7 linked regions of the Homo sapiens genome follow. The protein of the gene in region 5 purifies or fractionates together with the protein of the main gene of each other region. This does not show direct contact. Each region holds a gene or a part of one and is shown on either strand. Other genes may lie near its edges.

Region 1 (3,500 bases), on a different chromosome or scaffold from region 5:
GCTGAAACTTTCAAAGCCTCTTCAGTTAGATGACTGTCTGGCAAGCCCTGCTGGTAGAAAATGCTGGGCTTCCCCCTATGTGAGTGGGAACTAGAGAGTACTGTTGGTGTTGCAGTCTTCTGGTCAGCTGGTTCAGGAATAGCTGTGACTTTCAGAGTCTCTTCAGTTAGATGAGTATCTGCTAATGTCTTTTGGTTGAGAGTATCAGTGTGTTGACCAGTAGTAGTTTCTAGAGGAGAACTTACAGCCAACTGAGACAGGTCCTCAAGGGACAAGGATAAATGAGATCCAATGTCTGAATCAACAGGAGTGGTAGTGATGCCTGACTTCAAGTTGGATTGAGTAACTTTAGCTATGCCTCCTTTAGAAGTGTCTCCTAAAGAAAAAGAGATTTGTTAATAGTATATAAAATTTTCTATTTTAAAATTCTATGTGCTGGAAAAAAGCCAGCTTTGAGCCTTTAAAAAGCTTCTAGAAATGAATCCTAAGGAAACAGCCATCAAAGGAGATAAATATTTGCACACAAAGATATTAATTAGAAAACTAAAGTAAAAACATTTTAATCTTCAACAACAGAGTAATGGTTATAAACAACAGTATATCCAGTGGATGAAATATTATATGGATCTTACAACTTGGATTTTTAAGAGAATTTTCAATGAGATGGGATAATGCTATTGGGTCTAGGATTTGATTTCACCCTACTTACAATCTGTTATTGTGTCTTGCAGGCTGGCAGAAGACATAAGGTCTTCAGTCAGAGACAAAAGACTTCATGATCCCTGGTACAGCAAAGGCTCATCAGCTTATTTTCACGGGTTCCTCCTGCCCCCAAGTCCCACAGGGGCAGTACAATATGGCCTAGAGGGATGCTATGCGTGCAGTGAGTTTGAAGGACTCTCCCAACAAATGCACCCTGTATAATATATATATATTTAAGTACATAAAACTGAAAAAACTCTAAAGGTTACTCTGAAGAGTTTTAACTTAATTCTGTATAGCATGGCAAGTTGTTTACAGTTTTAAAGTTTTCAAGATGAGTGAGAAGGGAATGTAAAAATCTAGGTTGCACAATCCAACAAACATTTCTATAGAAATGTTCTATATTTGCACTAATACAATAATTCTAAATGAAAGCAGTTTTAAACAGCAGTGTAAAGTAAGTGACTGCAACAGAAATGACAGGATTTGACAAGCTGTCCCTTCATTCATTGTTCATTCAAAATACATGAATGCTTACTATGTTCCAGGCACTGTTCTACATACAGCAATAAACAGACAATAATCCCTACCTCACAGAGCTAATTTGTATTCTAGCAGGAGGAGGCTGACAATAAATTGGTAAAACATATGATGTGTCAGATGGTGTTAAGATGATTGATATATAGAGCAAGTATTATCTATTTTTTACGTATAGGGAAACCGAGTTGCAAAGATGACCATGTAACAGTGCTTCTCAATGTTGGGATCTTGTTAACTTGCAGATTCTGACTCAGTAGGTCTGGGTGGGACCTGAAATTCTGCATTTCTAACAAGCTCCCCAGGGATGCCCAATGTTATTGGTCCTCAGACCACATTTTAAGTGCAAAGATACATAGTTTTTCTAGAATTGTAGGTGGGTAAGTGACAAAAACTGGTACTTTAACCCTTAAACTCTAAATCCAAGTTCTGAGCTCTTTCCACTACAACTGACTGGCTTTCTATGGCCACTGACGAGCTTCAAAGGAGCTGAATATAGAATGAAATGGGTTGAGGAGTGAATTTCAAAGTAAAGAACTAGAAGTATCAAGTATTAACTCTTCAAGAAAAGTAAAAAATTTAAAAATGTAACATGCATTGTAACCTGAGAAGGAATATGAGTTACAAAATTTTGTGAGGTTCTTGCCTGCTGGGTCTAAAGAAAATAAGAAAAGTTTTTGTGAGGAAACAAAACAGGCTCAAGAAGCTAATAAACCAAAACAGATTAACAAAACAAAACCTTGTTTTTCTAAATGATTTCCTGATTTCTCAAAGTTTTTATATCCCTTTGGCCATTACAAATTATTAGTGACACCATGAATGGGGACAAATGAGATAAATAGCTAAGGAGTTAAGATGTACAGCCCAGGTCCTTGAAAGATCCAGGTTACATAAGATAAGGTCTTTTTAACCTCAGGGGTAAAGGAAAAGATTAGTAAAGAAAACTGGAAGAACGACTATAGGTTAAGCTGTTAAAAGCGAGGGAGGAGATGCACGATGTTAAAGAAGAATTCTTGTCAGTTCTATATAAAGTTAAGGACATATATGTCAAACTGTCAGAAGAATGGTGATCACAAATCCATTAACTATGATTTATAAAATGTGTCTATGTACATAAGGAGTTCATGATGAAAAATGGTATGTTTTTAGAGTCCTTATTATTCTCTCAGCCCTGGGAAAGAAGAATACACTAAGTGTGAGTGTTAACAATATTACTACATACTGATATAATCTTTGGAGATTCATTTTCAGAACTAGGGGTGAGTTGAAGAGGTAAGTTTCGACCAAGAAGAGGAAGATGGCTGCCAGAAAAGACTATACTACACCAAAGTTGTATATTGGGTGGGAACTGTATGCCTCTTAGAGATGACATTAAGACTAACAACCTGGGTACAATTTACTCAAGAACTCTTCTCCATACTAAGGTGCTTAGTAACACAGAAGGCTTCCTAGGTGACGAAGACAGCACGGTTTTATTTCCCCAAGTATATTCTGACATAAGAAGAATAAGCAAGCCCTTTATTTCTCACAGACAAAATGAGGTACAATTCCATACTTCCATTTTACATATGACTAAGAGCCTCTTACTAGTAATCGTTCCAAGTCAATTATTATGGGTTTTAATACTAGCACACACAAATAAATTACTATAGCTCTCATTTTGAGCCCTCTAATTCAGTCACTAATAAGTCTGTAACGGGGCTGGGAAGGTAGTGAGGAGGATGGTTAATGGGTACAAAAATGTAGTTAGAATGAATAAGCTCTAGAATATGATATAGTACAATACGGTGACTACAGTCAACAATTATTTATAACGCATTTTAAATTAAAAGAGTATAACTGGAATTTTCACAACATAAAGAAATAATGAATGCTTGAGGTGACAGATACTCCATTTACCTTGATGTGATTATTACACATCGTATGTTTGTGTCAAAATATCTCATGTACCCCATAAATATATACACCTACTATGTTCTCATAAATATTAAAAATAAAAAAGATTTTTTTTTAAAAAGTCTGGCAAAAGCACCTATTGTGTGTACAGAGAAGTAAACTCAAATTCATGTTTTTTTAAAAAGACACCAGTGATATTTTAAATGGGTCTTTGTCTTCATTGTTGTTATTCTTGCTTTCTAATTAATTACTATATCATTTTTATAAGTTCCTAATTATTAATTATTGATAACTAAATAATTATAATTGTGTTGTATTTCGTTAATCCCTCAGTTAACTCATAGATGTTTATCTCTACATTCATT
Region 2 (3,500 bases), 6.6 Mb from region 5:
GACAAGTCATTTAGCATGCCTGGCCTCAATTTCCTGTATGATCTCTAACATCTTTTCTGAAACCATGACTATGGCTGTATATAGGAAATGTTGACTTGACTATCTTACGGAACAGATTCTGCATGGTTTTAGAGGTAAATGTTTGGGAATAATTTGCAGCTAACGTGTATCCCAGGAGTTCACCATTTAGTGCAATTCACAATCAGAATTTCTTTTAACAAATCATATTCATTGAAAATGATAGTCACCATCTGGACAGTTCTGGAGGCTACAGCTAAACTGCTTTGAAGATGTTTTCTCTTCTTAATAATATTCTGTTGTGTTTATCCTTTGCCAAGGTTCTGTGACTCCCCGACCAGTGACCTGGAAATGCGCAATGGCCGGGGTAGAGGCAAACGCATGCGTCCCAACAGTAATACACCTGTCAATGAGACAGCCACAGCCTCTGACAGCAAAGGGACCAGTAACAGCAGCAAAACCCGGGCAGGAGCCAATAGCAAAGGCCGTCGGGGCAGCCAGAATTCTTCAGAGCACCGCCCACCTGCCAGCAGCACTTCTGAGGATGTCAAGGCCAGCCCTTCCTCAGCTAATAAGCGGAAAAACAAACCCCTTTCAGACATGGAGCTGAATTCTAGCTCAGAGGACTCCAAAGGGAGCAAGCGTGTCCGTACTAATTCCATGGGCTCAGCCACTGGCCCCCTTCCTGGGACAAAGGTAGAACCCACTGTTCTGGACAGAAACTGCCCCTCCCCCGTCCTAATTGACTGTCCCCACCCAAACTGCAACAAGAAGTACAAGCACATCAATGGACTTAAGTACCACCAAGCTCATGCCCATACAGATGATGACAGCAAGCCGGAAGCGGATGGGGACAGTGAGTACGGAGAGGAACCTATTCTCCATGCAGATCTTGGGAGCTGCAACGGTGCATCTGTCTCACAAAAAGGTTCCTTGTCCCCTGCCCGCTCAGCTACCCCCAAAGTTCGACTTGTAGAGCCCCATAGCCCTTCTCCTTCAAGCAAATTCAGCACAAAAGGCCTCTGTAAGAAAAAGTTGAGTGGGGAAGGGGACACAGACCTTGGGGCCTTATCCAATGATGGCTCTGATGATGGACCCTCAGTGATGGATGAAACAAGCAATGATGCCTTTGATTCTTTAGAAAGGAAGTGTATGGAAAAAGAAAAATGTAAAAAACCCTCTAGTTTAAAACCTGAAAAGATTCCTTCCAAGAGCCTAAAGTCAGCCCGTCCCATTGCCCCTGCCATCCCCCCACAGCAAATCTACACCTTCCAGACAGCCACCTTCACAGCAGCGAGCCCAGGCTCTTCCTCAGGCTTGACCGCCACAGTGGCACAAGCCATGCCCAACAGTCCCCAACTCAAGCCCATTCAGCCCAAGCCCACTGTTATGGGAGAACCTTTCACAGTCAACCCTGCCTTGACTCCAGCCAAGGACAAGAAAAAGAAAGACAAAAAAAAGAAGGAATCTTCAAAGGAACTTGAAAGTCCTCTGACCCCTGGGAAGGTGTGTCGAGCAGAGGAAGGCAAAAGCCCATTCAGGGAATCTTCAGGAGATGGGATGAAAATGGAGGGGCTCCTAAATGGCTCATCAGACCCCCACCAAAGCCGACTGGCTAGCATCAAGGCTGAAGCCGACAAGATCTACAGTTTCACGGACAATGCCCCCAGCCCTTCCATTGGAGGCAGTAGCCGCCTTGAAAACACTACCCCTACTCAGCCCCTGACTCCCTTACATGTGGTGACCCAGAATGGAGCTGAAGCCAGCTCAGTCAAAACCAACAGCCCTGCATACTCTGACATCTCTGATGCTGGGGAGGATGGGGAGGGCAAGGTAGACAGTGTCAAATCAAAGGACGCCGAACAGTTGGTTAAAGAAGGGGCTAAGAAAACTCTTTTTCCCCCTCAGCCTCAGAGCAAAGACTCACCATATTACCAAGGCTTTGAGAGTTACTATTCTCCAAGTTATGCACAGTCCAGCCCTGGGGCTCTGAACCCCAGCAGCCAGGCAGGAGTGGAGAGCCAGGCCCTGAAGACAAAAAGGGATGAGGAACCTGAGAGCATAGAAGGGAAAGTGAAGAACGATATCTGTGAAGAAAAGAAGCCCGAGCTGAGCAGTTCCAGTCAGCAGCCCTCGGTCATCCAGCAGCGTCCCAATATGTACATGCAGTCCCTGTACTACAACCAGTATGCCTATGTACCCCCCTATGGCTACAGCGACCAGAGTTACCACACCCACCTTCTGAGCACTAACACGGCTTACCGGCAGCAGTACGAAGAACAGCAGAAACGCCAGAGCTTAGAGCAGCAGCAGCGGGGAGTGGACAAGAAGGCAGAGATGGGCCTGAAGGAGCGGGAGGCAGCACTCAAGGAAGAGTGGAAGCAAAAGCCGTCAATTCCACCAACTCTCACCAAGGCCCCCAGCCTGACAGACCTGGTGAAATCAGGACCTGGCAAGGCCAAGGAGCCAGGGGCTGACCCAGCCAAATCAGTCATCATTCCCAAGTTAGATGACTCTTCAAAACTCCCGGGCCAGGCCCCTGAAGGCCTTAAAGTGAAGCTGAGTGATGCCAGCCACCTAAGCAAGGAGGCCTCTGAGGCCAAGACAGGTGCTGAGTGTGGTCGACAGGCAGAGATGGATCCAATACTCTGGTACCGACAGGTAACTGTTGCCCTGGGAGGAAGTGGAAATACCGTATGGTAATCGTCTATCTTCCTCACAAATAAGGGCTGTCCTTATACAGGGGTTCAACGGAATTGAGATTAGCAGGAGAGATGTATAATTTTAAGGATTCTTTACCTTTGTAAACTATTTTAATGTTTTTTATTTTATTTTAGTATTATTATTTTTTTTGAGATGGAGTCTCACTCTGTTGCCCAGGCTAGAGTGCAGTGGTGCAATCTTGGCTCACTACAACCTCCGCCTCCCAGGTTCAAGCAATTCTCCTGCCTCAGCCTCCCGAGTAGCTGAGATTACAGGCACACGCCACCATGCCCAGCTAATTTTTTTTGTATTTTTAGTAGAGATGGGGCTTCACCATCTTGGTCAGGCTGGTCTGGAACTCCTGACCTCAAGTAATCCACCTGCCTCAGCCTCCCAGAGTGCTGGGATTACAGGCATGAGCCACTGCACCCAGCCAATTTTTATTTTATTTTATTTATTTATTTATTTATTTTGAGATGGAGTCTGGCACTGTCACCCAGGCTGGAATGCACTGGCGCAATCTCAGCTCACTGCAACCTCTGCCTCCCAGGTTCACACGATTCTCCTGCCTCAGCCTCCCGAGTAGCTGGGATTACAGGTGCACGCCACCACACCTGGCTAATTTTTTGTATTTTTAGTAGAGACGGGGTTTCACCATGTTAGCCAGGATGGTCTTGATCTCCTGACCTTGTGATCCACCCACCTCGGCCTCCCAAAGTACCTGGATTAAGGCGTGAGCCACTGCGCCCAGTCGTAATTTTTTTTATTTTTATGTTTTT
Region 3 (3,500 bases), on a different chromosome or scaffold from region 5:
ATTAGACCCCAATCCCAGAGACAATTATGCTGACCTTTCTCTTCTGGCTCTGACCCATAACCTACATTTTTTTTTTCAACCCAAGCAATGCTAATAAGTAGAAAAATTCATAGGTTCAGCAGAGGACTTTGAACCTTTTTGCTGTGCCTTGTTCTAAAGTGATCAGCAGGAACTGAGTTTTACTAATAGGAGAGAAGCAACACAGTTTCTTCTCTCTCTCCCCCATCTCTTCTGAATCCTTCTCATGAAATTAAAATACCAGAGGAGACAGCTGATCATTTCCACAGGCAGAAATGCAACTTCCTCCTTGCTAGAGAAGAAAAAATAGTTACTCCTAAACAAGATTGCTTTCTTATATGGAATAGTAATCTCAAAATAGGAATGTTGTTTAAGCACCAATTACAAAATAAAGAGGAAGAGTGAGCTGCTTCTCTACTCTGGTGTATATTTTGTAGCTGCAGGGTGGTATACAGAAATCTCTTGGACACAAGGGGAAAGGAAGGAAGCATGTCCACGGGGCACCTCCGAGACACCAAATTTCAACCTTTTTGAATTCCCTTTGTGCCCAGATGAAGAGATGAAATGACAAATATAACAATTTCTCAATAACTAAAATGTCACTCGCCATGCTGCTTAATAATTTTTAAAGCAAATATTATAATCTATGTTCCATCTCAGCAGCAGAACACCTAGTTACTCAGTTGATTTCCCTTATCCTATCACATTATTTGTATTCCCTCGCTCAGGTCTGTGCCAAATGAGTGCCTGTAGACACTCCCTCTTGTGGCCACGGCCCCTACTCAGCTGCTGCAGCCCCTCCCTGCTGCGGTCCTGGGTGATGGCCTGCTGACCATCTGCCTCCCCTGCTAGAAATCCAGGAAGGCGAGGGCTTGAGCTATATGCTCAGCGCTGAGCAAAGTGCCCAGCAGAGACAAGGCTCTAGATCATGTCTCACTGAATGCTTTCCAAAGCAGATTTACTCTGGAATCAGCAACATCAACCCTCTCAAAATCTCTTGCCTCTTTCAGTTATTTTATATGTTCCTGGGTACCATGACTAAAACCAAGAAACTGCTAACAGGGGTTTTGGGTATGATGTTTTTCCAACGTTTGGGAGGGACTAAGAGGTGGCTTTACTTGAGAAAATTCCTTTCAGATTTGAGGATTAAACACTTGGTCCAAGAAGAAAAGGACCTGGCTGTTGGCTGAGCCCTGGAACAAAGCACAAAGCTCCCACGGCTCTCTTCCCGTCTCCCTCCACCCGCAGGGAGGGAAGTGGGTAATCTGGAGGAGAAGAGGAAAAAGAGGAAGTGGGCCAGAGAAGAGAAGTCTGATGGCCAGTTTTCCTCCAGTGCTACGCTAACTCGGTGTCACAGCTTTTCCAAAGATTGAAATACGAAGTTTTTCTGTCCTAATTTCTTAAGACACAAAGGAAACAAGTAGATAGAAAAATAAATAATATTTAAATGTTACAATCATATTAAAGATATATGCTGGGAGTTAATTATTATTTCAATTTTTCACTGTGATTTCCCAAACTTTAAGGTTCCCAAGGAACAGTTTTTGCAGAAGAGTCTTGGGGAAAAGTCCAACTACTATGCCAGGCACTGAAGAGTAAATGAAAACACTTTTTAAGCAACTGGCCTGGGAAGCCTAAATGAGAAGCCTTTCCTTCCAACGTGTCCTTTCTCAGCACTGTCTTTACATGTTCACATGGGAATTACTTCAGAAATGTCATTAACAATATAATGACACCTATAACCCCCAACCCAAGATTTTGACTAATTTACACCTACAAGATGACTTCAGTGATACATGAAATAATTCACAGAGCACACGGACTGGTATTTAGTATGCGACCCTGCTGACTGTTAGTTCAAAAAAAGAACTTACTTGGGTGCTGATATGAGAGGGGCACAGCAGCTGCAGCAGCGTCCACATGAGACATATCCCCGGCAGGAGAAAGCCCGCCCATTTCCAACTGCCTTGGCATGTTCCCTGCAGCTGCATGAGGCACAATTGTCCCATGAGTCCTTAATAATAACACCAAGACAAAGAAGGGCAGTGCAGTGTGGGGGCAACTGACTGGAGCACGGGAACTGAAGCCAAAGTAACTGGGTGCGCCCTTTCCTAACAGGATTCTATGAAGTTCCCAACATAACCACTTGGCAACGTATTTGCTTGTCAGAGTGTTCTCGTAGTTGAAAGAATTAACTTTGTTTACAAAATGAGATTCGTTACCCAACAGGAAAATCAACCCAGTGACAGTGAAGAATTCAATTGGCTTGCTGATCATCATTTGAATTCTATTAAAATATCAATGATTTAACACAAAGACTTTAACAAATATTTACAAAATTTACCAAGCCCTCTCATTTAACTGTTCAAAATATTAACACTTTCAGATTTGAAGATGAAGTTTACAAGGCTAACCAATAGCTTATATGCAAATATAAAGATTTCTCAAGCTGGAAAGAACCTTAGAGATGATAGGCTCTACATGCTTATTTTACACTTACAAAGTGGCTACAAAGTAAGACAGTCTAAGGCAGGGCCATAGCCAGGACACCAGTTTCTGGACTCTTAATATTCTTTTATCTCTATTCTTTTACTAAAAATGAGGTTTTCTAAATCTGAGGCAATCAACTGAATCAGTATATTTAAAAAATAACATCCTTAGGCCGGGCGCAGTGGCTCATGCCTGTTATCCCAGCATTTTGGGAGGCCGATGCAGGCGGATCACTTGAGGTCAGGAGCTCAAGACCAGCCTGGCCAATATGGTGAAACCCCATCTCTACTAAAAATACAAAAAAACTAGCTGGGTGTGATGGCATGCACCTGTGGTTGGTCCCAGCTACTCGGGAGGCTGAGGCAGATGAATCACTTGGACCTGGGAGGAGGAGGGAGATTGCAGTGAGCCAAGATCGGACCACTGTACTCCAGCCTGGGCAACAGAGAGAGACTCCATCTCAAAAAAATAAAAATAAACATTCTTGTATTCCATCAAAGGAAAAAATAAATAAAAATCACTTATTTAAAATCTGATAAGTTAATAATTCATTTATAAGCTTAGCTCAAACTCTGAAATTATTAGTCATACTGAAATTTTTAAAAAGTAAACACACACATGAAAATCATCATGGTAGAAAAATGAGGTGATACATCTGTACTTGTGGTTGTATCACAAAATAATAATGACCCAATTTGTAACTGCTTTTCTTTTTAAACCAATGGATACGTTTCACCAAAACTAAGCTTTCTAGATTTTCAACATATAAAAACTGGTATTTATATTTGAACTTACATTCAAAAGATGATTCAAACTCCTCATTATCCTTAAAAGCTAGCTTGTCCACATCTGAAAATTCACTTTTGTCTTGAAGTTCAGTTTGTCTTCGATAAAGACTAGATTGGAAGGATAAAACTCGTGAAGTTTCAATAATGGAAAACCAAAGAGTACAAGGTGACAAAAAGCCTTTTGTGACTCAAGAAAAGGCTCTA
Region 4 (3,500 bases), on a different chromosome or scaffold from region 5:
TGTCTTGCTGACTGAAGCCCACGGTTTGGTCATAGAACTGACCAGAGTAATTCTGCAGATTAGAGCACAGCGGATGGGGCTGCCCTTTCATCTCCATCTTGATACCATTCACCCTGCAGGTCTGACTTGTGTCACTGAGCTGTCCTGACTGCAGAGCAAGGCTGTCCCTCGGCATAGCCTGGCGCCTGCTGCCCCCAAAGCTGGCACATGGCTGGTAGCCCCTGACAACTGCCAAGCTTGACGGCTGGCTGCCCATGCCGTGAGCCCCTGGCAGGCAGCTCTCTGGCCCTTGGTAGATGTTGATGTGTGAGGTAGCACTAATCTGCCCAAGCATCTGCTGACCGGGGCGGCCTGCCCCCGGGTGCTGCATGCTGTCGCCGAGGAGCTGGTGAGCCAGGTACCCCTGTCCCACTGGGTCCTGGTTCTGCATGCCATTCACCATGCTGCCAGCTGACTCATTTGGCGCTACCGGCAGGCCGAAATTCAGCTGGCCCCCGCTCCCTTGCATGGGGGTGCTCTTCAGCTTTGAGGCTTGAATCCCGGCACCACAGGCACCGTCGAGTGCACCAGGGGCCACTGGCTGCCTGTTGAGACAGTTCCCATACTGCGGGGCCTTACAGGGCTGTTCATGGAAGGCGTTTCCACTGGTGCCACTTCCGGGGCTGTTGTGGAGCATCAAGTGCTCTGGGCCACCGTAGGGGTTGCTGTTCTCCCCGAGGGTCTGATAGCCCCCAGCAGGCCCGCTCCTCAAGGGGTTCTGCGGGTGGACGACCATGCCGTTGCAGAACCCAAAGGCGCGAGTCTGCGGCACAGCGGGCCGCGGCCCACACTTGAGCTTGGAGGAGGACAGGTCGGCGCTTCCGGAGCTGACTTCGTTCCACTGAATGGGCAGGTCGGTTTTGCTGCCCTCGGGGCAGGGCTGCTCGAGGGCATGGAACTGCTGGCCAGCGTGGCTGTCTGGCAGCCCGGGCGCGTCAAAGTCACCGGGCCCGTGGGGCACTTTGCTGTCGTCCGGGAGGGCGCTGGGGAAGTGCTGCTCGTACCCTGCTTGGTTCTGGGAATTTAAATACTGCACCACGTCGTCCGGCAGGAAATCCTCATCGTTCAGGTTGGCATCAGCGTCCATGGTCAGGGACTCCAGGGTGACGTTCTCGGTGATGCTGGGAGGACAGGGGGACGAGTGGAAGTTTCGGGACTGGCCGCCCTCGGGCCGCGTGTAATTCTGAAGCACGAGACTGCGCTTCTCCGCGGACGTGGCCATCGCCGGGGGGTTGCAGCTGCTGAGGCTGCTGAAGCGCGGCACACGAGGCAGGGCCAGGCCCTCGGAGCCTGTCCGCACCGGGTCGCTGGCCCTCCTCACGCCGTGGCCCGGCGCATCGTGCGGCTGCAGGTGGCGCCGCCCGTAGCCGTGGGCTCCCCCGTCGCTGCACCTCCTCGGGGCATGAACTGGAGGCAGGGCCACGCCAGGCTCGAGGGCATCCCCGAGCAGCGCCAGGCGCGTCTTCAGGCTCATCCTCTCCATGTTGGGCAGGGGCGTCGGCGGCGGCCCTCCTGTGGCAGCCGCGTACTTGGCCTTGAGGCGGTACTGCTGGGCGGGCGTGAGGCTGAGCAGGCTGGGCAGGCCGTCGCTCTGGCTGGCTTCGCTGGAGCGGCGCGAGGCGTCGGTGGAGATGGGGTCGTAGGAGTCGGCCACGCTCACGTTCTGCGGCCGGCCCTCGGCCTGTGACGCCTCGCTGGAGCGGCGGCTGGAGAAGCAGGGCGAGATCCCTGAGGAGCGGCGGCTGCTCAGGTAGGCCGAGCTGATGGTGCTGGCGCTGCTGTCCCTTCTGTTGAGCATGTTCAGCATAGTGACGTCCACCCCAGAGAGGTCGCTTCTGCCCGGGAGAAGCGTCATGGGCCCACCCAAGCTGCAGGTGTTGTTGGACTGTGTGCCTGGAGACAGAGAAAGGGAGAGACCATGCGGAGATGAATTCCCTTCGAGCATGACTTACACCAGGCATGAGCAACCCTTTTCTGTAAAGGGCCAGCTAGGAACTATTTCTGGTGTCCCAGGCCACATTGCCTGCCTCACAACTACTCAGCTCTGCAGTGTAGCCCCAACACGGCCACAGAGAGCAGTGAGCAAGCAAGCGTGGCGGGGTGTCCATGAAGCTTCCTTTACAAAAACAGGGGCGGCTGGAGATGGCCGCAGGCTGTAGTTTGCTGATGCCTGGCTTAAACAAAACAATAACAACTCCCTCGATTCACTGAAGCCCCTCCCCAAGCGCTGTGCAAGGACAAAAAGAATCTTGTGATGGTACACAACGCTTGAGTTCCAGGCAAGTCCCCAGGCAAAGGTACTCCACGAGTTTCACATTCACGCTCAGGGCGTCCTGTTCATGCCACATCCTACCAACAGGTAACACCTGTGTTGGTGCAGGCAAGAGCTTCACCCCTTAGGTGCTCTCAGAAGTGTAATCTCAGAAGTGCAAACTGACCTGGGGACTGACAGTGGGGAGGGATTTCTGACTTTCCTTGAACTGGGTAAATATAAATAAAAGTGGCTGCTAACCTCGTGGTTTTAAATTTTGGAAACCAGAGACAGAGTTCCAACCACAGATGCCTCCACTGCTGGCATTCCCTTACCCTAATCTAACAGTTATGATTTCACCATCAGAATATGAGTCATGCACAGTCACATTTTTTTCTCAATATTATCCTGTTCCTAGCTGTTTTTAAAATATGGACAATCCCAAAAGGCAACTTGAATGGGCTAAACATTAACGGATGGTTACAGCGTCATTTTAGGACTGGTGGAGAAACTAGCAAACATAAAACTGAGGGCCTGCATTTAAAAGAACAGAAAAAAAAACCCTGAGCAGATGCATGGTCTGATGTAGAACTCACCATTTCCTATGAGAGGAGAGACCGCAGGGGCTTTAGGGGGTAGAATGGGGTTCAGTCGCGGAAACATTCCATTCACTTGTTTTAGCCTTTCTAGTTTTACGTGCTCCATCCATTTGGTCCCTGCCGGGTTTCTCCTGGCTTGCAAAGCAAGGGCTGTGGTTGCAGTGGAAATGGTTGAGTCCATGATTGGGGTTTCATCGATGGCACTGAGGTCTCCTATACTACCTCCATCGGTCAGAGGAAGCTCGAGCCCACTGTTGGAATAGTTGCTGATGGGGGACTGTTGGCTGCTGCATGAAGACTGACCACCAGGGCTTGGCTGAGATGTCTGTTGGGGTCAAGTGGAAAGGAAAGAAATGTCACCAGGGAGGGTCAAGGAAAGGGAGCCAATAATGAGAGCTCATGCATATCGAGATCTTCAAGATCATCAGTTGGTTGAATGAGAAGAAAAACTATGTTCTGGTGAATGGAGCTGGCCACTTTTGGCCAGAATGACGGATGGACCACCAGGCTGATGGGCAACAGGAGGCAATGGAAAGCAGAGAATGCTAGCTGCAGTGTGACTGGCATGGTATCAGCCATGGAATCCTGCCCCAATCGCCAACTCTGCAGAC
Region 5 (3,500 bases):
AATTAAACCACGCCACAGTGTTTATTTTGCATTTAGGTCTTTCTCAATTAATCTTGGCAACACTTGGGACTCTGTTAACGATGGGGGTTTTAAGAGATGCAATTAAGAAGTTAGTCATATATATGTATATATGTGTGTGTGTGTGTGTGTGTGTGTGTGTGTGTGTGTGTGTATACACATATATATAAAACTTGGATATAATTTGCCTTTTTCTTTCTTGTGGCAGGCCAGGTAAAATGAATGACATCATGCAAAGGCAAAGGAAAGAATTTCTGCGTATGTGTGTTTTTTTAAGATCTGAAAGTCTACCAAAAAATTTTAGCCTCAAAGTAAGTACTGAATGGAGACCCTAGCTGAAGGTAACAGAGAAATGGACATGTGGAATAGCACTTCTCAAACTTGAGTGTTCACAGGCATCACCTGGGATCTTGTTAAGTTGCAAATTCTGGATCTAGGACATCTAGGGTGCAGCCTGAGAGTCTGCATTTCCAACAAGCTCCTGGGAGATGCCAATGCTGCTGGTCCACAGACCCACAGCTTTGATAATCAGTCATAGAATAAAATAGAAATTCCAAACAAAAGGGTGAAAATTCAACACTGCAAATTACCATTTTTAATGAAGGAAAAATGGCAATGAAATTCAAACCAAAAACCTCTGAGTTTGAGGCAGATACAAAAGATCTGCTGGCCCGGGACAGGCTGCCCTGCTGGAGCTCACTCAGCACTGATGAACCAAAACTGACTTGAGCTTCCTCTTGGGGAGCAGAAGAAGAACCTGCTGTTGGCTGATGACTTGTGTAAACATCTTCCCAAAGGCCTGAGGGGGTAAAATATACAAGCACCAATGTATATTTTTGTATTCATATTGCCTTGTGGGAAGCTCTGCCTAAATTGGAGAACCATTCAAAACCCAATGACAGAGCAACAGCATTGGAAAGGTGACGAAATGAATGCAAATGACCAGTTAATTCTAAAAGACCAAAGAGCATGAGCTACCAAATTGGGTGTGTTTATGAGAGATCTGATTTCTAGGTATTTGACTCAGAACATTTGGACAAGTGGCAGATTCATTCTGGCTTGGCCAGGAGAACGTTTGTTTTCCTTACAGCTGGTCAGAGCTAATAATCCTGACGGGTCTGAATGGCCTCTTCTCCAACAGGACAGAGTCCATCTGGCCGCTTGCAGGGGGGCCTCCACGGAACTGGGGAGATTTATGCAGAGCTATGATAAGTACAGATGTGGCGAGGCGATCTGTGTGGCCAGTAAACTCCTTCAGGAGAATCATGTGGTAGGCGCCCAGGGGAGCTGTTGAGTAGTTCGGCTTAGTCTCCCCAGAACCCATCTCTGGGATTTTACTTTAGGTGCTCCACTTGTCAAAGCACTGGCTAATTTCTGAAAGTTATGTCTTGAGAAAGAAATGGAAAAGGCACAGTTTGCAGATCAGAGATGTGGGAGTCAGTGTAGGCTAGTGGTTCACGACATGGACCCTGAGGCCAGCTTTCTGGGGTTTGAATCCCAGCTCTGCTACTTGCTAGTTTGGAAACTTTGGGTAAGTTACCCAATCTTTGTATGCCTCAGTTTCTTCAAACAGGACCAGGATTAAGATGAGGCCAGTGAAGCAACTAGGATGCAATATTTAAGGAGATAACAGTCAGGGTCGTGGAAGTGCTGGTAGGAACCTGAGAGTAATGTCTTCTTAAATGTTGCACCCTAAGAACCTCCCTAGCTGCACTCCAAGCCCAGTTCTGGCCTTGTATTCATTTACAAATAAACACAATAATAGTACCTTTGTTATAGATAGTTACAAAGATTAAATGACTTAAGAGCAAATGACCTAATGCTTCACACAGAGTATGCATCATACAAGTATTTGCCTTTATGTAAGAAAAGCTCTAGTTTGGCTATTTAATAGCTCTACCAACTTTGGCAAATAATGCACCTTCAGTTTTCTTAGCTGTAAAATGAGAGCATGACCATTTCATGTTCACTAGGATGGCTATACTCAAAAAAGACAGATAATAGTGTGTTGGGAAAGATAAATTGGTAACCTCATACATTCCTAGTGGGTAGGTAAAATGGTGTAGTCACTTTGGAAAACTATCTCGGAGCTCCTCAAAAGACTAAATGTAGTGTTACCACAAGACCTAGCAATTGCAGTCCTAGGTATATGCCCAAGAGAAATGAAAACATACATTTGTATATAAACTTATACATGAATGTTCATAGCTACATTATTCATAATAGCCAAAAATGCAGAAACAACCCAAATGCCTATCAACTGATGTAGAGAGAAATAAAACATTGGTATACCCACAGAGTGGATTATTATTCAGCCATAAGTGCTGATATATACTGTAACATAGATAAACCTACAAAATATTCTAAGTGAAAGAAGTGAAAGAAGCCAGACACATATGATTCCATTTCTATAGAATGTCTAGAATAGGCAAATCCATAGAGACAGAGAGTGGTTTCCAGGGATTGGGGAGAGAGGGGAAAAGAGAGTGACTGCTAAAGGGATGGAGTGTCTTTTTAGGATGATGGAACTGTTCTGCAATTAGATAGTCGTGATAGTCACACAACCTTGTAAATATACCAAAAACTATTGAGTTACATAGTATTTTTAAATGGTGATTTTTACGGTATGTAAGTTATATCTCAATAAAGTTTTTTTTAAGAAAGCATGTTTACTTACAAGGATGTTGTAAAGTCAAATTGAACTTACTGATAGAAATGCATTTTTTAAATCTGAAAGCAATTTTTAATGATTTGTTTCAACAATATTTAACAAACCTTTATTGAGCAACTTCTATGAGTGCCTATTGAGCATCATGTGTGATTTTTTTTTCCACTTGTTCACATTTCCAGCCCTGACAACGTAAGTACATGGAACACCCCCACCCCGCCCCCACACCACCATAAAGTAGGGCTCTATGAGAAGAACATGACAGTGCACAGTAAGGGTTCTAAGTCCAGGTTCCAGGCCCAGTTCATCCAACGGGCGTCTGGGAAAATTGCTGTTGCTATAATAGTTGTTGAGATAATGGCTGCAAACAGCATGTTTTCCTTACAACAGGCTGGCTGCCATCCAGGGCTGGTTATGTGTGATCTTCCACAGCTCTACAAAGATAATGCTAAGCAGTCAGCATGACTCAAGCAAAGTCACTCCATCCAGTCTCCCTCCCTACACACTCACCCTGGAAATGTGTCATCTGCAATCATCACCTGGAACTGACAACTCCCGCCTTTCTGTTTCCTGCCAAGATCCCTCTCCCGAGCATCAACCCCATGTGCCTAGCTAACCTCCAGACTAGAGCCTGAAAAGTGCACATAAGTCACCCGGGGGTCTCACTAAAATCCAGCTTCTGCTTCAGCGGGTCTAGCACAGGCCTCTGCTTCATTTGTAACAAGCTCCCAGATGAAGCTGATGTGGTGGGTCCTGGGACTGCACTTTGATAGCTCCACGTGTCACTTCGAAGTCAACACACTCAAGTCCGGAT
Region 6 (4,113 bases), on a different chromosome or scaffold from region 5:
TTTTGAGACAGAGTATCATTCTTGTCACCCAGGCTGGGGTGCAATGGCACGATCTCTGCTCACTGCAGCCTCTGCCTCCCAGGTTCAAATGATGCTCCTGCCTCAGCCTCACGAGTAGCTAGGATTACAGGCGCCTGCCACCACGCCCGGCTAATTTTTGTATTTTTAGTAGAGATGGGGTTTCACCATGTTGGCCAAGTCTCGAACTCCTGACCTCAGGTGATCCGCCCGCCTTGGCCTCCCAAAGTGCTGAGATTACAGGCGTGAGTCACCGCGCCAAGTAATCACTTACTGAACACCCACCATGGGCCAGACATTGTGCGACGTGTTAGGGCTACAAACCTGATTACACATGGCCCTGAACTTGAGCTCAGCCTACCTGGAAAGCCAAACACGTAAACACATGACTACAAAATGTGTTACATGAATTAAAGGAAGTAACATAATATATAACAGAACACAAAGGTAAGGGCAAATAATCTTAGGAAGATCAGGGAAAGCCTCACAGAGGACAATTGAGATAGTTCTTGAAGGATAAGCAGGTGATCCCCAGGATAAGCGGAGTAAGGGAATTCACGGCAGAGGAACAACATGCACAAAGGCAAAAAAGAAGAAAATCATAAGGTGGGTGCAAAGAATTAATTATGACAACAAAAGCTTATAGCCACTGAACACTTCCTATGTTACAGGAACTGTACTGAGTGCTCTATATACATCATCTCACTTCATCCACTCAGCAAAATAGAATTATCTTCACTTTTCAAATAAGGAAACTGAGGCTTAGCAAAGTTAAAAAAAAAAAAAAAAAAAAAAAGGCCAGGCGCAGTGGCTCACGCCTGTAATCCCAGCACTTTGGGAGGCGGAGGTGGGCGGATAATGAGGTCAGGAGATCCTGACCAGCCTGGCCAACATGGTGAAACCCCGTCTCTACCAAAATACAAAAAATTAGCCAGGAGTTGTGGTGCCCACCTGTAGTCCCAGCTACTCGGGAAGCTGAGGCAGGAGAATCGCTTGAACCCAGGAGACTGAGACTGCAGTGAGCCAAGATCGCACCACTGCACTCCAGCCTGGGCGACAGAGCAAGACTCTATTTCAAAACAAACAAACAAACAAACAAACTTGCCCAAGGTGTCACAGCTAATAAACGGTAGAGCAGAATATGTAAGTATCCATGTCTGACTCCAAAGCCCAAACTCTTAACCATTCTGACATGACCAGAGTGCAAGGGACAGTGGGAGGAGTGGCAAGACAGAGCTCTAGAATGAAAGGCAAGAGCATATTATAAAGGGCCTGGAAGAACAGAGGCTCTATCCTGTAAATGATGAGGGGCCATCACAGGATTTCACAAAGGAGACTGGCATGACCAGATCTGTAGGTCAGATAGACGATTCTAGCCAAGAATAGTGGTGCATGCCTGTAGTCCCGTCTACTAAGGAGACTGAGGTGGGAGGATGGCTTGAGGGCAAGAGTTCGAGGCTGCAGTGTACTAGGGTCACACCGGTGAATACCAACTGCACTCCAGCCTGGGCAACATACCAAGACCCTGTCTCTAAAATAAATAAATGATTCTGACAGCTGCATAAGAACTAATTACAGGAGGACAAGAACTGAGGCAGAGAGACCACTTAGGAAGTTATCCTGAAAGCACAAGCAAGAAATTATGAACTAAGTCAGTGTCTGTGAGGATGGAAAGGAAGCGCCAGATTCTAGGGGAATTAAGAGGCAGAATACAGGACTTGAACTTCGGGAGAGAGGAGGGAAATCAGAGCACTAAAGCCAGAACACTGTGACTATCATTTCTAGATGTGTTCATTTCTATGCCTCGTCCAATAGGCAGCCCCACCTACTACACTGCCTAGAAGACAGGGCATGTCCGACAAATGTTTGCTGTATTTATTAGATGAATAAATTAAAGGGACAGACTTGGCTGAGTGAATGGTGAAGCCCTTCATTGAGATAAAAAAATACAAGAGGAGAAACAGATCGGAGGGACCGGGGAAGGCTGACGATGACAGTAAGCAGGTCTGAGCTCAGGAAAGAGGTCTGGCTGGAGTAGTTTGGCGAGTCAACGCTGAAAAGCTGATAACGCAAGAGATGGAGTGCGCCGAGTAGAAGGGAGCTTTCTACTGCCAAGGACTGAGTTAGGAGAACGGACAGGGAGTCGCTGAAGCCAAGTGAGGAGAGCGGTGCCAGAGGTAGAGGGACATTTTTAAATCCAATGCAAGAAAAGGAAAAAACAAAAAAGCTTTCCAACTTTCCCAGCTGGCCAAAGATGGCATAAGATTGGGCTAGCCCCGGATTTGGACCCGGGGGGAAGCCTGCCACAGAAGTATCCCAGCAAGCTTCGGAAGGCCTGGCCTCACTCGCCAACGATGAACAGAGCAAGCAAACCAGGGCCCCGTGCCCAGTGCCCCTCTCCCGCGTCCCGACCCGCTGCTCACTCACCCGCCAGACCCCCAGCCCGGGCCCGGTGGCCCGCTCAGGAGCCGGCGAGATTTCAAACGGAGGAACTGTCGCCTGGCAGTCCGATTTTCACTTCTTCCCTCAGTCCCCGCCCACACTCGAGCGCATCACGCTCGTTGGCTCGAGAGCGTGCCTCGGGTCCCCCGCCACGCTCGCTCCCTTCCCCGCCGCCCAACCCCTCCCTCGATGAGGTCCTCAACTATCCCCCACCCCGGAAGGCTCCGGGCGAGGCTCCGGGCGAGGCTCTGGGCGAGGCGCAGCTCCCCCAACGCCACCCAACACCCACCCGCTCCCCCAGCTTCCAGGGACGCCGGGGTGTTGCCCTGCAGCGCGCAACAAACACTTCCGGAAAAGGTACCGCCTAGCAACCGGGAGTCCCGCCTCCAGCAGGAGCCAATAGGTCGCCGGCTGAGAGCTGTGACAATGGATTGGCTCGAAGTCCCTTCGGTGCACGCAGGAGCTCTGTCCGTTTTCCGTTGCACGATGGGAGTGTAGTTTAAGATAGATAATGGGAATCCGCAAGAGGTTGAAAGAGTGTAGTTTAAGATAGATAATGGGAATCCGCAAGAGGTTGAAAGAGAACCTCATCGGCTGGGCGCGGTGGCTCACGCCTGTAATTCCAGCAATTTGGGAGGCCGAGGCGGGTGGGTCACCTGAGGTCAGGAGTTCGAGACCAGCCTGACCAACATGGTGAAACCCCTTCTCTACTAAAAAAAAAAAAAAAAAAAAAAGAGGACCCCGAGTTTAGACGTGAGGATTTCTGCCAGGACAGAGAAGGACTATTTAGAGTATTTATACTAATGTGAATTATCTAATTATCTAATTGATCATTTGTTAGGAGTATGATTAACATCAGGTGAATAATACAGTGGTCATCAATAATCAACCCATTGTTACTTTAATCAACAAAACAAATGTGAATGTAAGGTAATGGAGACGCGTCCACTCCCCATCTCTCCCCGCAAAAAAACTGGCTCTCCTGTGCTCCTATTAAACCAGTGAGCACCTGACCAGGAGTTAAACCTATTTTCTACTATCCATCTTTTCACCAAAGCCCAGGGTTCAGTTTGTATGTCTGCAAGATGGGGATAGTAATGTCTGTCATAACTATTTCAAAGAGTCTATTGAAGAAGAAAAAAAGTGACACAATGTGTAGCTCCTCCACACACCCTGTCGGGCAGAAAGGTTGCTACTAATATAATTCCGAAGAGTTTTAGTTTTGCTTGCACGGAGGGCAAATCTTCCTTTCTCTCATATGTCTCCAACCTCCTAGAGAAGTTAAGAGGGGCAAAGAAAGTTCTGGCCATTACATCAATAGGAAAACTGAGAAACAGACAAATACAGATGCTGCTAGTTGAGGAGGAAAATGATGAGGCCAAGCTCATAGAGCCGCTCCTGATAGGTTCTAGAGATGTAGCTGACTCAGGATAGTCCCAGTGCCACTCAGAGGCTGATTCCAGGATGAGAAACTCAGATTGTTGGAATATACAGAGCATATTCCTTGTGAAAATTATCAAAATCAAAATAGAGTCATTTGTTTTAAAACCCTGACAAATGGAGCCAGGGAAGACCATGAAGAGAGGGTTCTCACGCATGAATACCTGATAACAAAAACTATCGACCGGGCCTGGTGGCTCATATCTGTAATCC
Region 7 (3,500 bases), on a different chromosome or scaffold from region 5:
GGCTCCCTGCTGAGAGCTGCTTCCCTGGGGTTAGTGGAACCTTGCCAGGGACTGACAAGCCCATGGGGAAGACCACCAGAGCAGCCAATCTCAGGCCTCACCTTGAGCCTCAGGGCCCCAGCTGGGTTGGGGGACCCCTCTGGTGTCTCCAGTGGCTGAGGGACTGAGGGGCTGCCTGCCAGGCTGACAGGATGCAGGTCCTGGGGGGCTCTGGACCCAGCTGTTCTCCATCTTCACAGAGAGCAGACCGCCAGCTCCAAGATCAGGATGGGGAGGAGGGGTCAGGAGGTATCCAGGCCCTGCGGGAGGAGGCCATTGGGAAGCCCAAGGTTCAGGCCTGGACTCACCCTGAGAATCCCTTGAGGCCTTTATAGGGTTAGGAGGGGCTTCCAAAGCCCCTGTGCCTCCACGGCAGTCACCGGCTCAGACTGCTGTCACTTGTCAATCACCAGCAGAGACCTGAGTCACACGCCTCCTCCCCTACCATGGCCCCTTGGGGTGCCTCCAAGGTTTCTACCAGGCATGAAGTCAGCCCTCCCCAGACAGCACCAATCATGTCTTTCTCCATGGCCAGCACACCTGACTCAACCCAGCTGCTCAGGGCTTTGTTCTGAGAAGCTAACAAGCTGAGGTGACATGCACGGAACACGAACCCCTGTGTGGGCTGGGTGGGTATAATTAGGATTTGGGGTTCCCAGCTCTCACACACATGGCAGAAACCTGACCCAAACACACAGGACCCCAAGCCACAATGAGGAGCTGCGTGTGTGCTGGGCTAGAGCTCCATCCTCTATTTCTTGATCTCGCTCCCTCCCCACTTTCCTTTCAGAATGTCCAGCTCCTCCTCTAAGAGCCAGCCTGAGAATTATCAAGCGCTGACCGAGCCCCTCCCACACAGCTCGCTCCACTTACACAGTGGGGATCCCCCGCATCCGGATCCTCTTCCCGACAGGCCAATATGGGGGCCTGAGTGTTTGTGGTGGGGGCCACCTACAGCCCTGCCTGGGGCAGGGTAATGTAGGATGTCTGGGGGCCCTCCCAGCCCAGCGAGAAGCCTTTACCTCCAGAACCCCTTTTCCAGGCTCCTGGATTCTCCTGTAGCCGTCGGTTCCCCACTCCTGAGGGACTGGGATGCCTGTCCTGGGCCTCGGGGAGCTCCTTCAGACAGTGTAGCAGACCCTGGAGGGGACAATCCCCTGAAACCGCCTCGGTCTTCACTAAGGAAAAAGGAACATGTTTTCACCTGGAGCTCAGTGTCCTCAGCCTTCATGACAAACAACAAACAGGGGACAAGTTAGAAGGGCGTGGGGCCAACTCTGAAGATGAGGCTCTTCCAGTGGCTCGCTGAGTCTTCCCAGTGCCTGGGTCCACACACCTGCCAGAACCGGACAGGGCAAAGAGGGAAGCCATGGAATTCGCCCTGCAGGCAGACAAGTGGCATCACTCTGAGGACAAATTGAAGGAAGTGGGCTGTCAGGGTCACTGTTTGAGACAGCTCTGGGGTCCTGAACAGAACTTACATTTGAGGAAAATGGAGTTGTACAGTAAGTACATTACTGCAGCTAAGCTCACTGCGGCCCTGTGAGTGGGAACAGCCTAGGCTCAAGGCATCAGGAGCCTCTCCGGGTCTGACTCCAAGACCTGTGCCCCGGCCCCTCCACCATGCTGTCCAGAGCCCAAGCCCACCCCATGCATCATGCCTGGCGTCAATGCAAAGCAACACATGAGCTCTGCAGCTCTTCCCCTCGGGTCCCAAGTCAGGAGGAGGAAGAGACATGAAGAAACCAGGGCAAAGCCTGCTTCCGAGTTTCCTTTTCCCAGCTGACCAAACGCTGCCCTTAAGAGAGCCACCTGGCTCCAGAAAGGTGACACTGGCAACACAGCAGCGACCAAGCTGGTAACGATCCCTAAGGGAGACAGTTTGGAGCAGGAGGAATCGCTGTTGAAATGCAAACCAAGCTTCAGAGACCTCAGCCTGAGGCCCCAGAACTCACCTGCCCAGGGCGGGCTCCCAGGCCCCAGGTCTGCTCTGGTTAGCCTGGACGTGCCCAGGCTAGGGAGAGGTGGCAAGAAGCTTGGGGATGTCTCGGGGTGCCGGGGCCCAGGCACAAGGATTTCCTTCAGACAGTTGATGAGGCCTTGCAAGGGGCTGTTCCCAGGAGAAATTCCTGTGGCACATGCAAGGTGGGCCTGGGTCAGTGCAGTCCTGACGGGACACCGGGAGCGCTGGCAGGCATTCAGGTCTCCGGGCGGCTGAGATTCCCACCCGTGAGAATGCAGACAAGGCCTGCCCGGTGGAGCTGCCACCAGGCCCAGGCGGCGGAGCAGCATGACCTCCTCGTGTGAACTAAACACACTTCCCCATCGCTACCCCACTAAGGAAAGCCCGCCTCTCACCGGCCTCTGAGGTCCCTCTCTCCTGTCCTCTGTGGCTCTTCCTCCTGCTGGGGCTATGGGTGGGAGGGCTGGGCTCCCCGCCCAGGGCTCCTGGGCCTTCCTTCCTTGTAGGCCACGGTTTGTCGGCAGTTTCTGTTGCAGGAGAAGACAAGAGGGCCTTTCTAGCCCCAGCTCCAGACTCTGGAAAATCACACCAGATCTGGTTCCCATAGAGGACAGCCCTCTCCAGCCACCCAAGTCCCTGTTCGAGGTGGGCTGAGGGCCTTTACCGTTTCTTTCTGGTTTAACTGGAAACAGCAAGACTGTTGGTTCACTGTGAACACTCCCAGACCCTTCCCCCTGAGCCCAGCCTCGGAATTTGGCTCAGGAAGTGATGCCGGCAGCCTTGACATGTAGGCCACAATCTCACACTCACGCTTCTCAAACCAGGGCACACACAGGGCACACAGAACCCCAGAGCAAGTGTGCCCGACGACCCCTGAACACCAGATGAAACCACAGCTAAATGGGGTATGCTCTTTGGGAGTGCCAATTTTATTCCATATAAATTTGAAGTACTTTTTTATAAAAACAGACATGCAAAATTTGTGAGAAGTTTTAAAAATAAAATGAGACCCCAGAGAAATCCTAGGAGCTCCCCTTGCCCTGCTCTGCAGTTAGGGTTGCTGTGATGAGACGGTCTAAGGATCAGACCAGTGCACACAGGTAGGTCAATGCTGCTGGCCGTGGGCCTGCATGTTAGAAACTGCCGGAGACTTTCTGTGTACAAAGTGCTCAGTGATCGGGGCGGGATGACAGGCTCCCCAGGGGCTGAGCATCATGCCTCCTCTTTGGTGGTTACACCAGAGGCTAAATATGTTGTCCTGCTCCCTGGCGTACTTTGTTAACAAAAGAACAGCACAACAGGGGAACTGAGTCCTAGAAAAAAATGAAGAGGGCACAGGGTCCAGGTCCTCTGACGCCACGATCAGGGCTTTTGAAATGCTGGTTCTCCCTGTCCCTGCTGTGTCAGACTCACTGATGGGGAGAGGACTTCCCTGGACCCCGTCACCAGTTGGGCCACTGGAACACGAGCTGTCGGTGGGCGTGGTGGCCAGGTGGGG

Evidence for each region.
Region 1: the proteins of THSD4 (region 5) and ALMS1 purify together in Homo sapiens (affinity purification with mass spectrometry; 2 studies listed by BioGRID and IntAct, with this or other methods). This does not show direct contact.
Region 2: the proteins of THSD4 (region 5) and ZNF609 purify together in Homo sapiens (affinity purification with mass spectrometry; 2 studies listed by BioGRID and IntAct, with this or other methods). This does not show direct contact.
Region 3: the proteins of THSD4 (region 5) and OFD1 purify together in Homo sapiens (affinity purification with mass spectrometry; one large-scale study listed by BioGRID and IntAct). This does not show direct contact.
Region 4: the proteins of THSD4 (region 5) and GLI3 purify together in Homo sapiens (affinity purification with mass spectrometry; one large-scale study listed by BioGRID and IntAct). This does not show direct contact.
Region 6: the proteins of THSD4 (region 5) and CEP164 purify together in Homo sapiens (affinity purification with mass spectrometry; 2 studies listed by BioGRID and IntAct, with this or other methods). This does not show direct contact.
Region 7: the proteins of THSD4 (region 5) and KRABD3 purify together in Homo sapiens (affinity purification with mass spectrometry; 2 studies listed by BioGRID and IntAct, with this or other methods). This does not show direct contact.

What each region holds. Positions count from the first base shown.
Region 1 is NC_000002.12:73,444,836-73,448,335, reverse strand, and holds part of ALMS1 (centrosome-associated protein ALMS1), read right to left. Parts: intron 377-3,500; coding exon 1-376. UniProt on the Homo sapiens protein: Involved in PCM1-dependent intracellular transport. Required, directly or indirectly, for the localization of NCAPD2 to the proximal ends of centrioles.
Region 2 is NC_000015.10:64,673,578-64,677,077, forward strand, and holds part of ZNF609 (zinc finger protein 609), read left to right. Parts: intron 1-338; coding exon 339-2,679; intron 2,680-3,500. UniProt on the Homo sapiens protein: Transcription factor, which activates RAG1, and possibly RAG2, transcription. Through the regulation of RAG1/2 expression, may regulate thymocyte maturation.
Region 3 is NC_000023.11:13,762,248-13,765,747, reverse strand, and holds part of OFD1 (centriole and centriolar satellite protein OFD1), read right to left. Parts: intron 3,405-3,500; coding exon 3,304-3,404; intron 2,033-3,303; coding exon of another isoform or gene 2,031-2,032; exon of another isoform or gene 2,004-2,030; coding exon 1,893-2,003; exon of another isoform or gene 1,889-1,892; intron 1-1,888. UniProt on the Homo sapiens protein: Component of the centrioles controlling mother and daughter centrioles length. Recruits to the centriole IFT88 and centriole distal appendage-specific proteins including CEP164. Involved in the biogenesis of the cilium, a centriole-associated function.
Region 4 is NC_000007.14:41,964,710-41,968,209, forward strand, and holds part of GLI3 (transcriptional activator GLI3), read right to left. Parts: intron 3,215-3,500; coding exon 2,887-3,214; intron 1,933-2,886; coding exon 1-1,932. UniProt on the Homo sapiens protein: Has a dual function as a transcriptional activator and a repressor of the sonic hedgehog (Shh) pathway, and plays a role in limb development.
Region 5 is NC_000015.10:71,237,471-71,240,970, reverse strand, and holds part of THSD4 (thrombospondin type-1 domain-containing protein 4 isoform 1 precursor), read right to left. Parts: intron 1-3,500. UniProt on the Homo sapiens protein: Promotes FBN1 matrix assembly.
Region 6 is NC_000011.10:117,326,541-117,330,653, reverse strand, and holds the start of CEP164 (centrosomal protein of 164 kDa), read right to left. Parts: upstream 2,801-4,113; 5' UTR 2,750-2,800; exon of another isoform or gene 2,446-2,749; intron 1-2,445. UniProt on the Homo sapiens protein: Plays a role in microtubule organization and/or maintenance for the formation of primary cilia (PC), a microtubule-based structure that protrudes from the surface of epithelial cells. Plays a critical role in G2/M checkpoint and nuclear divisions.
Region 7 is NC_000007.14:149,721,451-149,724,950, reverse strand, and holds part of KRABD3 (protein KRBA1), read right to left. Parts: coding exon 3,416-3,500; coding exon of another isoform or gene 3,108-3,415; exon of another isoform or gene 2,911-3,107; intron 2,578-2,910; coding exon of another isoform or gene 2,530-2,577; coding exon 2,398-2,529; intron 2,169-2,397; coding exon 1,995-2,168; intron 1,218-1,994; coding exon 1,062-1,217; intron 300-1,061; coding exon 102-299; intron 1-101.